Regions from separate parts of the Homo sapiens genome. Here region 2 is linked to region 1. The links come from fine-mapping of genetic effects on gene expression. A gene starts in region 1. The other region holds a variant in brackets. All regions are shown on one strand. Distances are from middle to middle.

Evidence for each region. PIP is the estimated chance that this variant, and not a neighbour inherited with it, causes the effect. A credible set is the group of variants that fine-mapping cannot tell apart.
Region 2: its variant is the best candidate, but not a certain one, in a credible set for the expression of DDX18 in minor salivary gland (GTEx, PIP 0.50).

The regions. Positions count from the first base shown.
Region 1 is chr2:117,811,668-117,817,055 of GRCh38, reverse strand. DDX18 (DEAD-box helicase 18) reads right to left here and starts at 2,365. Exons shown (of 14, transcript NM_006773.4): 1 at 2,194-2,365. The coding sequence starts at 2,278. RefSeq lists enhancers at 1,508-2,043, 2,119-2,168, 2,189-2,238, 2,369-2,498, 2,044-2,581 and 1 more.
Region 2 is chr2:117,752,939-117,758,326 of GRCh38, reverse strand. LOC124907878 (a long non-coding RNA gene) reads left to right here. Exons shown (of 2, transcript XR_007087210.1): 2 at 553-4,234. Among named protein-coding and RNA genes, the nearest start is that of DDX18, 59 kb to the left of the region's middle. The variant A/G (reference allele first, on the strand shown) is at 3,094.

The DNA of each region.
Region 1 (5,388 bases):
CTCATTCACACAAGTACTATTTTTCATACCACTTCAAAACATTCAACCCCAACTCTTCTAGACTGCAGTGAGTTGAAAATTCAGTTGATAAGACCACTTATTTGCTCCAATATTTATCATATGCAAATACAGTAATGCGTGCACAATGACATTTCTGTGAATTAAGGACAACATATACAGTGGCTCCATAAGATTATAACGGAGCTAAAAAATTCCTATCACCTAGTGCCATCAGTAACTGCAATGTCGTAGTGCAACATATTACTCATGTTTGTAGTGATGCTAGTATAAACAAATCTACTGTAATGCCAGTCGTATAAAGTACAGCACACATAATTATGTACAATACATAATACGTGATAATAAACTATGTTACTTGTTTATGTGTTTACTATACTTTTGATCATCATTTTAGAGTTTACTCCTTTTACTTATTAAAAAAAAATGAGTCGACTGTAAAAGAGCCTCAGGGAGAGAGGTATTTTAGAAGGCACTGTTATCATAGGAGATGACAGCTCCATGCCTATTGTTGCCCCTGAAGATCTTCCAGTGGGACAAGATGTGGAAGCGGAAGACAGTGAAACTGAATGTGTCTGTGTCTTTACATTTTTAACAAAAAGCTTAAAAAGAAAAAAAAATAAAATAAAAATCACATAGAATAAGGACAAAAGGAAACTTTTTGTACAGCTGTATGTACAATGTGCTTGTGTTGTAAGCTAAGTGTTATTAAAGTCAAAAGGTTAAAATTTAACAAGTTTATAATGTAAAAGTTACAGCAGGCTAAGGTTAATTTAAGAATAAAAGTATTAAAAAACTCAACAGTGTAGCCCAAGTGTACAGTGTTTATAAAGTCTATAGTGTACAGTAATGTTCTAGGCCTTCACATTCACTCACCGCTCACTGACTCGCTCAGGGTAACTTCCAGTCCTGCAAACTCCATTCATGGTAAGTACTGTATACAGAGGTACCATTTTCTAAATCTCTCATGTCATAGTCTTTTTACTGTACCTTTTCTATGTTTAGATATATTTAGCCATACATACACTTACCATTGTGTTACAATTCTCTGAGTATAGTACAGTAACATGCTGTACAGGATGACAGCTTACGAGCAACAGGCTATATCATGTAGCCTGGGTGTGTAGTAGATTTAGGTTTGTGTAACTAGATAAAGTTCGCAAAACGACAAAAGCCCCTAATGACACATTTCTCACAATGTATCCCCCCTCCTGTTATGCGATGCATGACTGTACCTGAGAATGTCCTTACCAAAGGTTCCCTGTTTGTTTACTGAAAAAGATAAAACACCATCTTTTGTTCAAATTTACTTACATATGCGCTGAAAAGTAGTAATGCTGTAGTATTATTCTATAGGAATTAGAAATACAAGAGTATTTCAAAACATATTCCTAAAATTCACAAACCTATTGCCTCCTGCAGAATTTTTTTTCAATTAATGTCTGTTGAAAACCAACTGGGGCAAGGCACTGTGCCTCCAAACTTTCCCTCGGGGAGTTTGTATCTTAACCTGGACAACAGGTTAACACAATTACTTCAAGATCTGTGGCCCCACTGTCAGGACACTGGGACTGCAAATGAGGTAGGTAAGAAAGGTGACATTCAGATAAAATCCTTTTCATTTAGGTCACTGTGCGGGACACAAATACGTAGAAGCTCTGGTGAGAAAGTGCTACGAGAACGTGTGGAAGTGGGTAGAGGAAGGCAATAGTATCAAAGAAGCTCTGTGGAAACAGCCAGACGGGCTTTTGGGGAAAGAAATACGGGAATTAAATAGATGTGAAAAGTGGGTGGAAATGAGACGTTTCATGCAGCATAACCGGAAATGAGGGATGAGGTGAGGTGCGACTTGCAGGTGGTGAGGGAACCAAAAGCTAAGGTGGAAATGCAAAAGGCAGGGTTAGTCGTAAGCCTAGAAGTGAACGGGGAGTCCTCCCGCTCTAACGTTGTAAGAAGACACTGATTGCTCAGAAAGGTCAGGAGCAGCGCTGGAGCCACGCGACGAGTGGGCAGCAGCGCGGGTCCCGAGTGGAAGCTGCCTTTTCACTCTCCCCAATCACACACGCTGCAGGGGAAGCTGCCTCCGTCACACAGAGCAGCTGGGCCCCCGGCCGCCCGAACGCGCCAGGGCTCGCGCGTGGGTCTTCTGAGCCACCGCGAGTCAACGCATCTCACCCTGAAACTTTAGGTTCCGCTGCCGCAATTTGAGGTTCCGCTTCTCGATCTTCTTACGCAGGAGTTTCATCGGCAGGTGTGACATTCTGCCCAACAAGTGCCTAGAATAAGGCGCCACACAGTACAGCTACTCAGTTCTCAGGCTGACGTTACTTCCCTTCCGGCCGCACGTGCGCAGCTCGGCCAACAGGAAACGCGTCACAGGAACGCTGGCACCCGGCGGAACGAAAATGCTCCAGAGCGGAAATGCTTCCAGACGCGCGCACCGTGATATCTTTGGCGACCAAAATCTTTGCAGCGCCCCCTGGAGAAGTGGAAGCGAGACGCTGCACTGGCTTCACACTGTGCTAAAGCTAACTTGAGCTCCCCCTAGAGGAAGACTGAAGAAAGAACGTGGAGGGGAAGGAGGCCTTAGGGAGTCCGCATTTTTATGTTCCTATCCTCTGTGGGTGCAGAACTAGAGTTGGCCCTCCCTGTACCTGAATTCCCTGTCTGTGGATTCAACCAACTCCCCCATTGAAAACATTAAAAAAAAAACAATTAAAAATAATACAGTGTGATAACTACTTTCATAGCATTTAGGTTGTATAAGGTATTATAAGTCATTTAGAAATGATTTAAAGTATACAGGATGTTGTGTGTAAAATAAATGCAAATATTACACTATTGTATATAAGGGTTTTGAGTATCCTAAGATATTGGTACCCATAGAGGGTCCTGGACTCAATCCCTTGTGGATACTGAGGGACAACTGTATTTGGGAAACTGAATAGAACTAAATTATATATATGCATTTCCAAACTTGTTTGGCCACTCTCCTCAGAAATACAATTTCTGTGTCACTTGGTACACATACACACATAAATATAACATTTCTCAAAATAATATTCTTGCTTTTCACTCTTTTTCCTTCAATTCCATTCATTCCATCCTAAATTATTCTTTTTAGCTTACTAAAAATACTGATTCCTATGAATTTAAATTAACTTTACTACATTAATAATAGGTTGACTGCAGTTTGAAAAAGAGGTTTATATATTCCTTAAGTATACCCAAGGACCCTTCAGCAGTCCAGGACAGAAATTGCAATGTGGCTAGCTAATAGTCATCTCTTTTTTGGGATGGGGAGGAAGACAGGGGTATGCATATAGTATTTAATTTTTAAAAAAATTGTTATCAACATTAAAATACTTGGAGATTTCCATAAAAATTCATATTTGTCTTTAAAAATTGGCCCAATGCCCTCAAATTCCCCTTAACAGTAATCAATTTGAGCTGAACAACTGGAAGAGTCCATGAAACCTGGATTAATTTGTTTACTTGGAGGGGCAGAACATGAGACCCTGGAGATTAGACCTGATCATAGTGAGGAACAGAGAGGGAGAAAACTTGGGAGGGAGTTTAAACAGAATGTGAAGGAATTGACTTCGAAATCACATTGGATTGGACTGGAAAACTAAGACAAACAAATAATAATGTGCTTAGATTAATTTGTTAATGATCAGGCAGGCTGAAGAATGATTCAGAAATGTAAGAGCGCACACACACACGCAAACATTTATCTCAGTGTAAATATATATGCCAGTTTAAATTTATGCATATATCAGTATATATATGCATATACACATATGTATCTATTTCTATAGCTCTATGTACATACATATATATTTACCTGATTACATGTGTGAGTTTTGGGTCTGTGACTTTGAAATAGATACAACTGAAGTATATATAGAAAGTGCTCAAAATTTGTTATTTCTTTTATGTTGTAACTTAAATTTGTGGGGCTATGTTTTGGTAGTAGTAATGGAAAGGTACTCCCTTTTTTCTAGAGTGTGACTTTTTCTAGCTAGTAGTGAAGATTGGCAGTCATTTCCTCAAAACCAAAAAAACCCACATTTACGAGGTGTTTAAGACATTTAGATCAGAGAAGCCGATCCTTTCAGGTGCATGGAAATGCTTAACGTTAGGGATTGATAACCTTTTAAGAAACATAGATAAAGCTACTGATGCCAATTCTTCTGGATTTTTAGAAGAAGAATGAGAAATTATAACTTCAAATCAACTCTCAAAATTAGGGTTGAGAGTTATTTTTAACAGAGTGAATTTCCAAGGCCACATCATCAGTTACTCTAGCAAAGAAAACAATGTCATTGGGTTAGCTACTCAAAAATTACCTGTGAGGATGAGGTAACAATCACGTGCTTCTGAAAAGCCTGTTGTTCTTCACAGCTGGAGCCTATCCCAGTATCTATTCAGAATGCGTTTCAGTCTTTAAAACTTCTTGCTTGGGCTCTCCATCACAGAGGTCTCTCTCTTCAGAATATGGTCATTCGCCATAAAACAATCGCATAATATAGTCATTATGCAACTATTTTTTGAGCATTTTTGTGCTAAGAGTGTGTGGTAGGCATGTGCCAAATCCTGGGTATAAAATGGTGGACAAGATAGACCTGGCTCGCCTAGGTGGAGCTTACAGAGCTTACAAGGAAGACAGAAAATTAAACGATTATGGTAAACTATGATGAATGCAGTGAAAAGGAAGCACATCACAGGAGCAACATCCTAGCCTTGGGAAGGGGTCTGGGGATGGAGTCTGTCATTCAATATTCATTATGCATAGGGACTGAGCCAGCAGCAGGCAGAAGCAGGAAGGGAGTTGCTGTCTTTTTTTTGTTGGTTTGTTTGTGTGTTTTGAGACAGAGTTTTGCTCTTGTTGCCCAGGCTGGAGTTCAATGGCGCGAACTTGGCTTACCGCAACCTCCGCCTCTGGGTTCAAGTGATTCTCCTGCCTCAGCCTCCCAAGTAGCTGGGATTACAAGCATGCACCACTATACCCAGATAATTTTGCATTTTTAGTAGAGACAGGGTTTCTCCATGTTATTCACGCTGGTCTCGAACTCCTGACCTCAGGTGATCCATCCGCCTCAGCCTCCTAAAGTGCTGAGATTACAGGCATGAGCCACCGCACCTGGCCAGGAGTTTCTGTCTTTTACCTCCTGACTAAAAATAATTAAGTTTAACATAGAACAGGTCTTATTCATGCTGTTTTGTTTTTCAGTTTTCACTTGAGATCCTTAAACCTGAGACAAGTGTTTGTAAAATAAAACGCAGATTTGTGTAGTTTGTCATTCAAATTAAAAACGTCCCACTTCACTGGGAAAAGAAATCAATCTATTTCACCAACATCATAGA
Region 2 (5,388 bases), 59 kb after region 1:
TCTTCTGCCTCAGACTCCTGAGTAGCTGGGATTACAGGTGCCTGCCACCATGCCCGGCTACTTTTTGTATTCTTATTTTTTTTTTAGTAGAGATGGGGTTTCACCATATTGGCCAAGCTGGTCTCCAACTCTTGACCTCAGGTGATCTACCCTGCCTTGGCCTTCCAAAGTGCTGGGATTACAGGCATGTGCCACTGTGCCTGGCCTGGTGGAGCTATTTTTTTAATAGCCAGGAATGAAGCCAAAACAGCAATGCAGACCATGCATACAGCCTGTCATTCTTTTTAACAGGTGGGCCTCAAATTGTTCTGTAAGTATTCTAGAAACTAAATGAAAAGAGACATTTGTTTGGTTGTACTATTTAGGGTTCATGAGATTAAAAACAAGCCCATTTTAAGGAGATGCACAATTCATTTTGATACTGTGGCAGGAACAACATTCTTTTCGGGACTCTCATGAATGAGCCCACTGTGTAAAGTAACAGCACCTTCAACCTTCTCATTGCAGACACCTGGGGTTACATTGGTGTTTCTTTTGTGTTTCCCAATGCAGGCTGATAACATCACATCATAGCCCATGCCAGTGAAAATCTTTCAACAGGAAGAGTGAAGAAGAGAGAAAAGGTCAAAAGACTGTTTTACTTCACGAATTTCTGTAGGTCTAGCTTAATTCAGGAGTGAACTTTAGAGTATCTAAATGGGAGGATGAAAAGGATAGATTTCATGCACCTTTGAAAATAATTTTTTTCCGCTAAATTGTGTTTTTGAGAAGTATTACAAGGCAGCAGCATGCTTAATGTTATGCTTCTAGGCAAATGCTTACAGTGTGTGTATCACATATGCCCAATTACACGTGGAACCACAGGCTCTAACAGACACTGGCTTGGGGTAGGGCTGACACAGCCTGTGCAAACTAAGGTGCTGGGAGGATGCTTTCCTGATCCAATGCCTATTCCATTTCTGCTTGGAGGTGAGGAGAAAGAATATTTGTGTGCAAAGGCAGAGGACTGAATTGTGTTTTACTACCTTTGAGCAGTTTTGCAATTACTGTTGCAGAACATGAGAATCAAAGAAGATGGGTGGATGGACCATCATAGTCAAAGTGAGTCATTGCCACAGGCAGAGGGAGGGAGGAAGCAGGATGGTTGGTCTGTGCAGATTCCAAGATACATCTATGTGGGCCTTTCTAATAAAGCATTAATTCATTCTTCCATTATTCATGCAATACATAAATTTTGAGCACTGACATGTGGTAAGCACTGTGCCAGTTAGTGGACATGCCAAGAGAAAAAACACATGGTTTGGGCCTCTTCATATATTTTTGTACTTATCTTCCACAGGTAGAACAATGTTCCTTTTGCATTCGACAGATATTTTGGAGCTCACAATTTGTTTTTCAGCTTCTCACAGCAACGACCTCTGAAGAACAGGGCCTAAGCTTACTAATATGAACACATGATATCAATTTTGTGTTCCAGTAATGACAGAAGTCCTGATGCCAAAGGCAGCATTGTTTTCATTCTCTTGCTTTAAAACTGAGTAATAATATAATGATTAGGAATTACTGTTAGCAACACAGATAAGAGTTAGTCATTCACACTTCCACAGTGGAACAACTGTTGGGAAGCTATAGCTTTATGCTGAATGATTTTGAGTTCTAATTACTGAATCTGAATAGCTGTCTTTAAATGTCAGTAATGGTAGAAAAAGGTTCTTTACTCTTAAGAACCAGTGGGGAATGAGCAGTACAAAATGTTCTTGTTAAAATTTCTCTTCTCTTTTTAAAATAGATGATCAAAGACATCCTAGAGTTCCCATCATTTTAGGAGATGTTTACATACATGAGGAATGGCACATAGGAAGACTCAGACCTTTACAACACCACATGGAAGTCACAGAATAAGAGAACATTCAAGCTGGAAGGCAATGTCTAGCCCAACCTCCTCATTTTGCAGATGAAGGAACTGTTTTAGTGCAGGGGTATTACATATAAACATCACAAGGGCAGAGCAGGTATGGAGTTTGGGGCTCCTCTTACTCAATCTAGTGGCCTGTCAATGGTGTCTAGTAGGGTGCTGGTTGTCCCATTCCTCCTTGCTGTCAGATGTCTATTTCATTGCTGCCATAAGTGTGGCTAGCCCCAGGGGAGGAATGGTGACCATCAAGACAATCACACTCTCCTTTGCCAGGGAGTATGTTCTGGCTTGTGATATGTAATGGGAGCTTTGCTGGTGCTCTTTGGAAAAGTTTTGCCTTGCTGACAACACGCAGGCACTTGAGAACAGAGTCCTTTTGCTAATACCTTCCTTTCTTCTTTGAACAGTCATGGGAGGATATCAGGCTTAGAGCTGTGATAGCTCTTTTGTGATCCTAAGAGGAGATTGTTGCCATGGCACCGAAGTTGCAGACTAGGAGGAGAAAATCAGCCCTATCCTTGTTGAAATCATTGATCTGAGCTAGCCTGGGACTGACTACCTCTTCCTGCTAGGTTAATAGGACTCTCCTTTGGCTTAAGCCAGACAAGAGGGTGCTTGGTATATTCAAGGATAGACAAGGGTCCAATGTGATTGGAGAGCAGTGAATCATAGGGAGAAAAGAAGATGAGGTGAGTAGGTAACAGTAGGCCAGATCAGGTAGGGTTTTATAACATGGTGAAGGTTTTTAGCATTTACTCTGTCGTGTGAGCAGAAGAGTGATTTTATTCTGAGTTATGTGTAACTGGATCACCCTGGCTGATATGTTAAGAAAAGACTGTGAGAGGTTGAAGGTAGAACCAGGGAAACCTGTTGAAACTCTTTTGACACGATCCAGGGAAAAGATGGCAATAGCTTAGACCAGTGTAGTAGTGAAAAAAGTGGCAAGACATCACAGATTCTGGATACATTTTAAAGGTAATGATAAAAATTTTCTTGACATAATAAGGGGAAAGAGAGATAGATATATAGATATTGAAAGAGAGAGAGAGAATGAGAGAGAGAGAGAGTCAAAGATGACCTAGTCTGAACAATGGGAAGGATAAAGTTGTCCTGAACTGAGATGAGGGTGACTTTAGGAGGAATAATTTTAGGGGGAGAAGATCAGAAGTTCTGATATG[A/G]TCAAGTTAAGTTTGAGGTGTGTATTAGACTTATAAATAGAGATGTTGAGTGGACTGTCAGATCTTAAAGCTGCAATTTAGGGGAGAAATCCATGCTGGAGATATACATTCAGAAATTAAAAAAATCATATTGATTGTGTTTAAAGGCATGAAACTCAATGTAATCTGCAAGGAGATTAGTATGGATAGACAAGAGAAGAGACCCAGAGACTGAACTCTAGGGCACTCCAACTATTAGAGGTGGGAGGGATGAAGATAAACTCAAGAATGAGGGTGACCAACCAGGAAGGCAGAAGGGGAATCAGGAGAGAGGGTGGTTCTGGAGGCCAAATGAAGAAGGTTTAGAAGGAGGAAGGAATAATGAACTCTGTCAATAAAGGCAAGTCAATAGACTCAAACCCTCATTCCAGCATACAGGGGGATGACTATGTTGTCTCTTTTTAATATTTTCTGGTAGTTTTGGTAAAAGTGAGGGGATTGTGCTTGCATTTATCCAAATTGCCTTTGCCTCCAAGGTCACCTTATTTAGCGTTCTTAATCTCTACTCTACATTTTGACTCCTCTGTTTACTGTCTCATTTTGTTACCACATCACTATATTGGAAACCTCCCTGACCATCCTCTTACCACAGCCCACCAACTCCAGCATGTGTGTGTTAGATTGAATAGTAGATTTAAGGGCAACTTGCGGATGACATCACAGGGCAGCCCAACACGAAGTTGAATGAATCAGTCAGGGTAGGCTTGGTTATGTTGTAGTAACAAACAGCCCCAAATCTCCATGGCTAAAACCAACAAATGTAACTCATCAAATGGGCAAATAAAATTTGTGCATTTCACTATATGTATATTTTGTCAAAAAAATCACCTGCAAACAAATATTGGGCTCTACTAAGTGATATGCATACTGAAGTGGTTAGGCTGAGATGTACTAATGTCTGCAACTTATTGAAATGTATCCAATAGGTAAAATTAATTGATGGGTGGATAGAGGAATGTACAGATGTGTGATAAAACAAATATAGGAAAATGTTAATTGTAGGATCTAGATGGTGGGTACAGAAAAATTCACTGTAAAATTCTGTTAATTTCTGAATGTTTGAAAACTTCCATAATAAAATTAGAAAAACATCAACAACAAATATAGTTTATGCCGTGCATCACCACAGGTCAGCAGGGGGCTCTGCTCCACACAGACACTCAGGGAACCAGGCTTAAGTAGCCACCATCTCAAATGCTTTGTATCACCATGGCAGAGGGGAAGAGAGCTCTGGAGACAATTAAATGTATTTGATGGAAGTGACACGAGTCATGTCACTTCTTTCAGCTTTTTAGGGAGAACTCATCATATAACCCAACTCAATTATGGGGGTTCAGGAAGTACAAGTCAACCATGTGCTCAGAAGTGGAAATTGTAGAAATATTAGGCAAACATTACTAGTGATATCTAGATGAATAATTAGATGTCCTTGTTCTTTAAAGCCCCTTAGCCATTTCCACTGCTAGAGAATTGTTAATAGTGGTATTTTTATCCCAGTCTCAGCTTCTTGCTGATTTGTTGGGCTCTCTCTTCCTTTGCTTATCCACCTCTTACTTTCCTGTTAATTTCTTGTATAAAACACTTCATACTCCTTAGTTTTAGTTATTCCAGGATATACCTGTGGGGCCTTAAGTCCTTAATGAAGCTCATTTTATTTACTTAATTTTCCCTGAGAAGTATTTCATGATAACCATCAGTGATCACATCCTCCCCTGTCTCCTGCCTGACCAGGGTGCTCATAGCTGGGAGATGCTGTGTGATTCTACCTCTGTGGCTTGGGAGGCAGTTTGCTGTGGTGCTGGAGAGTGTGGAGTCTGCAGACAGGTCACTCCAGCTCCCCCACTTCCTGGCTTCTTGAGGTGGGCAAATGCTTCTCTGTGCATTAGCATCCTCATCTTTAAGATGGAGATGCTAATAATATTTCTTACCTTGTATAATTGTTGTGAGAATTAAATGAGTTAATACATGAAAGTGTTCAGCTTACTAAGGGCTCAATAAGTAGTGGTCATTATTATTATTAGCAGGAAGTAACTTTAGACAGACTACTTAACCTTTCACAACGCTTATCTATGTGTAAAACAAACTCCAGGGGATATAAGCTACTGCATCAAAGTGCTCCTTCATGATTAATTTTTTTTCTGCTTATGTCATGGCTGAAAGAGCTCAAGGAGCAACACAGGTTGGGATTCTGTTCAGATCCCCCTAGAAAGCAGGGCTATTCATATCTACACAGCTCATAGTTGAGGCAGGCTGCTG